2 linked regions of the Homo sapiens genome follow. The protein of the gene in region 1 interacts with the protein of each later gene in a pairwise test. Each region holds a gene or a part of one and is shown on either strand. Other genes may lie near its edges.

Region 1 (3,820 bases):
TTGTGCATGTTATCTGCTCTTTCTGTTAGTGCTCTTAACATTTTAATTATAGTTTTTTAAAATTCCCTATATGATAATTCTAAAATCTGTGTCATACCTGAGTCTGGGTCTGATGTTTGCTTTGTTTTTATGTATTTTTTAGCCTTGTAATTTTTTAGTTGAAAGAGAGATATTATGTATCAGGTAATAGGCTTTTATTATGCGGCCTTATGTTAATTTGGCTAGGAGCTGGGTTGTGTTTAATGCTTATTGTAGCTATAGGTGCCAGAGACTTCAGTTTCTCTAGTGTTTTTTTCTCTCCTTTCCTATTGTCTTTGGGTTTCCTTATGAACTCCTTAAATAGGTTCTGTGCCTTGTAGCTCTCTCACTTATAATCTTCTGTTATTATACTGGAGCCCTGTTGATGTGGTAGTAAAGTGTTGGAGGAGAATCTGTTTATACTTTTATGATTAAATCTTATTCTTTTAGTGGCCTGAGCCTCTGGACTGTGGCCTTCAGAAGTGTTTCTTAGCCTTTTCTCTTTCTCTCTTCTTAAGTAATACAGAAAGGCTATAGACAGCTGGAGTTGGCTAATTTTCTTCTCTCAGGTCAGATAAGGCTCTGACATCTTCCCTTGAGATGGAGGGAATAATCTAGGTATATTTTAAAATGATTACTTCTTTCCATCCCCCAGAAAGAGGAGGAGATTTTTCTTGGCTCTTTACTGTGAGAATCTGGTGGGGTTCCTGGAAGTAAAACTCATGACAGTGTGATAGCATCCCCAAGACTGGGTCCCGAGGATGAAAACCCATGAAAGTGTGGTAAGCATCCCTAAGACCAGGACCTGAGGAGGTTTTTATTCTCAAGCTAGTCCACACTCATCCTTTAGCAGTTTGTCGGAGTTACTGCTTAAGTACTTCTACTGGTTTATGACTCCAGCAGCTTCTGCATGAGGTGATTTGATCTTAGCTGTAATTTTCTTAATCTCCTTCTTTCTCCAGTTTTCTGAGTGGCAGTTTGCCCTGTCACTTCAATTCTCTGAGGAATCTAAGAAAAGCTGTTGATTTTCAATTTGTTCAGCTTTTGTTCTTATTATAGGGTGGGAGTGATGACCTCTCATGTGAGAGGGAAACCTGGAAGTCAATAGTGGCTTTGGAAATGGCAGTTTATTTTTCTTTCACACTAATGTAGCCAGCCCAGGGCAGATATGGCAGCTAGCTCTGTGATCATCTGGGACCCATGATCCTTTTATCTTGTCACTCTGCCATCTTCAGTATGTATCGTCCACCTTGTGTTTGGAAATGGCTTATCCATCTCCAGTCATCACATAGTATTCCAAACATTCTGCAGGAAATAAGGAGAGAGAGAGAAAGAGACAGTCTTTTAAGACATCCTTTTAGTTTAAGGATACTTCCTAGAAGTTGCTCTTGCCACTTTTGCATAAATCCAGGCCTACTAGACCCCTGAGTTTGCATGACCAAACATACCTGCAGTGGAGGTTGGGTGATACAGGTTTAATCTGGATATGTCATGGCCAGCTAAAAATGCACAGAATGGAAATTGAAGAGCAATTAGCAGTCTCTACCACAACAGTGTTCCAAGGCTTTCCTCAGATTATGAAAGGTGTCTGTTTCACAACACAGCTTAAGAAAACTCTGCTTTACAAAATTGCTGTGAGAGTTGTGGTCACAGCATGTCAGTACCCGGTTGGCACTGGCACCAACATACCCAGAATATTTAGCCCAAGCTGACTTGCATTCAGTCACTCACATGTCCTGAAGGCTTACCATGGCTCAGATGTCAGGCTGATAATAAGCTAATCCCTCCCTACCCTTAAGGAGTGCCCAGTCTGGTATTGTAAATCTCCAGCTCATTGCTGGACATGGTTGCAGCATTTTTAAAGAGTAGGCATCCTGTGTTTTTTGTCTTATCTGGCTACAGGAGCAGTGATGCATAGCTGTGAGGGTATGGTAGAAGCCAGTTAGCATAAGGTGTGGTGGGGATAAAAGGGTGCTGGGCCCAACTCTGTATGATTTTTTTTCCCTGACAGCTTCCCCAGCCAGCAGATTGTTGCTGGATCAAGTGGGCATGAAAGAGAATGAAGACAAATATATGTGTGAGTCAAGTGGGTTCTACCCAGAGGCTATTAATATAACATGGGAGAAGCAGACCCAGAAGTTTCCCCATCCCATAGAGATTTCTGAGGATGTCATCACTGGTCCCACCATCAAGAATATGGATGGCACATTTAATGTCACTAGCTGCTTGAAGCTGAACTCCTCTCAGGAAGACCCTGGGACTGTCTACCAGTGTGTGGTACGGCATGCGTCCTTGCATACCCCCTTGAGGAGCAACTTTACCCTGACTGCTGCTCGGCACAGTCTTTCTGGTAAGGGTCTTTCTGGACATTTCTTCTCTTCCTTGCCTTGAGGGACTATAACATAAGACTTATTCCCACACAGCCTGGGTCTTAGCTGGGGACTGAAGGGGAAACAGAGAAAGCTTGGACTGGAAGGACCAAGCTGGAGTCTGGCCTAGCTCAGCCCCAGAGTCAGCAGTCCAGCCTAGGTCCCTACACCTGGGCAGATGATGGTCTTAGTAGGTGGAGAGTGGTGACTGTAGTCATCAGGTGGAGCAGGGCTATTTGTCAGCTCATGGCAGCTTCAGGGTTTTGGATGGTCCATATGGCTTGAAATAGGAAACCTGCCAGTTGCTAGGGGAATGGGGACAGTATCCTACCCGTGTTCCCTGAGGATAAGGGGCTATCAGGGGCCAGGGACCAGTCCTGCTAGCAGCCCTTCTAATAAGGCTCTAGGTCCACTGTAAACTGTTGGCTGGTAGAGGCTGACTCAGTAGTCTTGTCTTTTTTTTTTTTTTGAGATGGAGTTTCGCTCTTGTTGCCCAGGCTGGAGTGTAATGGCGTGATCTCAGCTCACCACAACCTCTACCTCCCGTGTTCAAGCGATTCTCCTGCCTCAGCCTCCTGAGTAGCTGGGACTACAGGCATGCACCACCACGCACGGCTGATTTTGTATTTTTAGTAAAGATGGGGTTTCTCTATGTTGGTCAGACTGGTCTCGAACTCCTGACCTCAGGTGATCCGCCCGCCTCAGCCTCCCAAAGTGCTGGGATTACAGGTATGAGCCACAGCACCCGGCCAGTAGTCTTGTCTTATGGGCTGTGTCCCAAGATGGGGAGGGCTACAGTAGAGTGGTTCTGCAAATGCTCAATGCCTTCCCCAGGCACACTGGATCCTTAAAACACAGTTCACGGCAGACCCACTCCTGCTGGTGGGCTGGGGCTTTTTGAGCTCATATGCCTTGGTCATAGCTCTGGTCTTGGGTGTGGGTGGCTCTGCTGGTAAAATGCATCTCCCTGGGGCTGAGAAGAGTAAGGAAGGCAGGGAGTGACTGGGGCACTGAGGAATGTGGTCAGGCAATGCCATATGGGGCCCAGGATGATCCTGGGGAGAGAGGAATTATTCTTGGAAGTTAGGACTAGGTGTGTGTGTGGGTGGCATGTGCAGGGATGCAGGGAGGGTATGTGTGTCCATGGGGAGTATGAAATGGAAATATACCTTGCATGTATGGTACGAGGGGTTGTCTATGTGGTATGCACATAGGGATAGAAGATGGTGTCGTATTACACAAGGTTTGAAGATGAGGGTAGCACAATTATGTGGTACGTGGTGTTCATCTTCCATATTTTTGGCAAGTGCTACATACACTGTTTGATGTATGGAGGTGTATGTGATAGGAATGGAGATGCTGAGACATGTGGCAGAGGGCTGGTGGTTAAATCTCTGACAAGGAGGATGACACAACCACACAGTTCCCAGCAG
Region 2 (3,820 bases), on another chromosome or scaffold:
CTTTATTATTATTATTATTTTTTGAGACAGTGTCTCCCTCTGTCGCCCAGCCTGGAGTGCAGTGGCATGATCTTGGCTCACTGCAACCTCCAGCTCCAGAGTTTAAGCAATTCTCCTGCCTCAGCCTCCCAAGTAGCTGGGATTACATGCACATGCCACCATGCCCAGCTAATTTTTGTGTTTTCAGTAGAGATGGGGTTTCACCATGTTGTCCAGGCTGGTCTCGAACTCCTGACCTCAAGTGATCCACCCACCTCGGCCTCCCAAAGTGCTGGGATTACAGGCATGAGCCACCATACCCGGCCACCTCATACATTCTTGATAGGAATGCAAACAGGTTCAACCAACTGCTAGACTGCCTTCTAAATACCTAACAAAATATAAAAGGTACAGTCTTTCAACAGACATTTCTTCCTCAGATACAGTCCTACAAGGACTTAGAAGCAAGGATGTCCACTGAACCATTATTTATAATAGCCACATTGGAAATATCAATAAGTAACTAGTGTATGTAAACAATGGAATGTTTTGCAGCCTTAAAAAAAGAATAGGAAAGCTGTTTAGGGGGCTGATAATGATAATTAACATTTTTGAGCACTTACTAAGTGTTTACATGAATTATTTGACATGGAATAATCTACAAAATATAACATTAAACCAAAGGAGGGGAAAAAAACAGCAGCAGCAAGGAGCTAAACAGTGAGTAGTGTGCTCCCACTTTGTTAAAAAAAAATCCTAACTATATATGTGTGTATATACACACAGAAAATTTCTGATATATAAACATTGCCTCTAAGGAAGGACAACTGAGGATTAAGGGTATAAGAGAGACTGATGTTTCACTGAATATTGTTTCCTAATGTTTGTCTCTATCATCTGCTAATTAATAAAAACACAAGCTTCAGAACCATATGTATAATATAATCCCTTTATAGTCAAAGGAATTTTATGTTTACATATGCATATATTTCAAGCCTAGAAAAGTCTGAGATACTAGCTACCAACCATTAACACTTAACTATAAAGAATGAGATGAGACAGGATAGAATAAGGAAGAGAAAGAGGAGTCATTGGTAATAACTAATGAGAAATGTATCAGTAGAAAGTATAATATTTTTTGTAATAAAAACAATAAAGGTACATTTTAAAATCAGCAGATACTAGTTACAGATTTAAACTTACGTCAAGAAGGAGCTAACAAAGAACATCAGTTTCAGAAACAGTAAAACTTGATGACTATGTTTTGTAGATGAGTAACCAAAGAACAGAAACCCACACAGTTGATGCTAGAAGAGGCCTTAAAGATCCCAGTTCTCTTGTTTTGCTGACCAGAAATTAAGGGTGAGCATGGCTAAGTCACTTGCCTGGGTTAACAGCCATGCTAGGTGACAGCTCTTTCAACCCTAGCTCATGGCTTTTCCACCAAACATTCTGCAGACTTCTCCACCTTGAGATGCTGACTTAACTTTGCCACTTCTTAGAATCCTGATAAAAACAATACTGGGAGTACGAATTCAGAATATTCCCAGAGACTCTGTAAATCTGGAAAACAATCCAATTAGGAACATGCTGCCTCTTTGTTTTATATTTTAATCTACGGAGAGAACAGAGCATAAGGAGATGGGGAGGAGGGAGATGGAATGAGAATAAATTGATTAATGAACCATCTGCATAGCACCCTTGCTATGTAAGGGTTGTTATTAGTAAGAGGTCAAAGGATCATCCAGGAAACAATCTATACAGCATGTATGTGGACAGGTGCGTAGCAGTTGGGTAAAGTAGGGTAGTGGGGAAACAGTGTGCCTGAGTGATGCTAAGGACAAGTAGAAAGTAGGACACACAGGCCAAGCGCGGTGGCTCAAGCCTGTAATCCCAGCACTTTGGAAGGCTGAGGCAGGCGGATCATGAGGTCAGGAGTTCGAGACCAGCCTGGACAACACGGTGAAACCCCATCTGTACTAAAAAAATACAAAAATTAGCTGGGTGTGGTGGCACACGCCTGTAGTCCCAGCTACTCAGGAGGCTGAGGCAGGAGAATCGCTGGAACCCGGGAGGCAGAGGTTGCAGTGAGCCAAGATCGTGCCACTGCACTCCAGCCTGGGCAACAAAGTGAGACTCCATCTCAAAAAAAAAAAAAAGTAGTACAGCACACAGTCAGTGGCCAGTGCTGGGGAACCTCCTCTTCCACCAACCTGGTGAATAGCCAAGGAAGAAGATAAGAGAACAGACAGATAAAGAAAAGGAAGAGAAGAGCTAACTATCATAGTACTTTGTCCTTGGCTATGCTGATTGTACATGTAATTATAGCCAATTCATGGATATGTAAGGTTGTAAATAAAACTGGATCCCCTGTAGTCCCAGCTACTCGGGAGGCTAAGGCAGGAGAATGGCGTGAACCCGGGAGGTGGAGCTTGCAGTGAGCCAAGATCGTGCCACTGCACTCGAGCCTGGGTGACACAGCGAGACTCCATCTCAAAAAATAAATAAATAAAAATAAAAATAAAACTGGATCCTGATTTCATATTACTGATACCTACTACCAGCATGCATAAGTCCAGCTTCTCTGCTGTAGCCTGGTGAGCATTTGAACCACAGATGGAGCGGGGTAAATATGCAACTGGATCCACAGGTCACCCAATCCCACTCCAGCTCCTGGATTTTCTCTTATATTTGGTAGAAGGCTTAAGAATTTAGGCTGGGCACAGTCGCTCACACCTGTAATCCCAGCACTTTGGGATGTTGAGGTGGGTGAATCACCTGAGGTCAGGAGTTTGAGACCAGCCTGGCCAACATGGCAAAACCCCATCTCTACCAAAAACACAAAAATTAGCCAGGTGTAGTGGTGCACACCTGTAATCCCAGGTACTTGGGAGGCTGGGGTAGGAGAATCGCTTGAACCTGTGAGGCGGTGGTTGCAGTGAGCTGAGATCGCACCATTGTGCTCCAGACTGGGCAACAAGAGTGAAACTCCGTCTCAAAAAAAAATAGAATTTAGGTAAGCCTTATTTTGTGAAAGAGCTGCTCTGGCGAAGGAAGAAGTTTGCAGATAATTAATTCTCCATGCCAAAAAAGAAGAACTGCAAGGGAACAGTTTAAGGTTCTAGAGGTCAAAAGACTTTTCTGGCTTTCTTTTTTTAAGTCAACAAACTCTAATAAATATTTATGATGTACCAGGCCAAGTCCTTACCTTCCTCAAAGCACTGATCACATTTTGCAAGTACTATTTTAATACCATCATTGTTTGTGAGTTTTGACATAACCATCATGCATGATTAAAAACTCCACAAAGAAAGGATGACCTGTAAATTCTCAATGGTAGCTGAAATCTTTACAATAATGATAAAATAATCAATAGCAGCTAATCCTCAAGGAGGACTTAGTATATGTGAAGCACCCTGTATGCATATAATCTCATCCTTACACAACAATCCTTTACGCCAGGTGGACTTCTAGCATCCCATTCCACAAATGAGGCACAAAGAGGTTAAGTAACTTCCCCAGGGGTGTTGGTAACCACCTTTTATTCAACACCCACCATTATGGGGGGCTAGTCCTGTGAAGAAAAAAGATTTTCTTCAACTTGTACAATAACCTGGCAAAGTATGATTATTCCTACATTACAGATAATGAAACTAAGGTCCAGAAAAGCTGAACTGCTGTTTGGCCTTGGTAAGTGGCAGAGCTGGTCTTCAATCTCAGTTCTGTCTGCTTTCAGAGCCGATGTTGTTCCCACGATACCAATGGCACCTAGACATTCAGGTTTCGTGGACCAGTAATATGTCCAAAAAAACTAGGGGGGGGTGTAACTTATATAGAATTA

The links.
Region 2: the proteins of NCR3LG1 (region 1) and STX8 interact in binary tests that used the Homo sapiens proteins (3 or more experiments, as listed by UniProt).

Annotation. Positions count from the first base shown.
Region 1 is NC_000011.10:17,364,980-17,368,799, forward strand, and holds part of NCR3LG1 (natural cytotoxicity triggering receptor 3 ligand 1 precursor), read left to right. Parts: intron 1-2,029; coding exon 2,030-2,368; intron 2,369-3,820. UniProt on the Homo sapiens protein: Triggers NCR3-dependent natural killer cell activation.
Region 2 is NC_000017.11:9,548,100-9,551,919, forward strand, and holds part of STX8 (syntaxin-8), read right to left. Parts: intron 1-3,820. UniProt on the Homo sapiens protein: Vesicle trafficking protein that functions in the early secretory pathway, possibly by mediating retrograde transport from cis-Golgi membranes to the ER.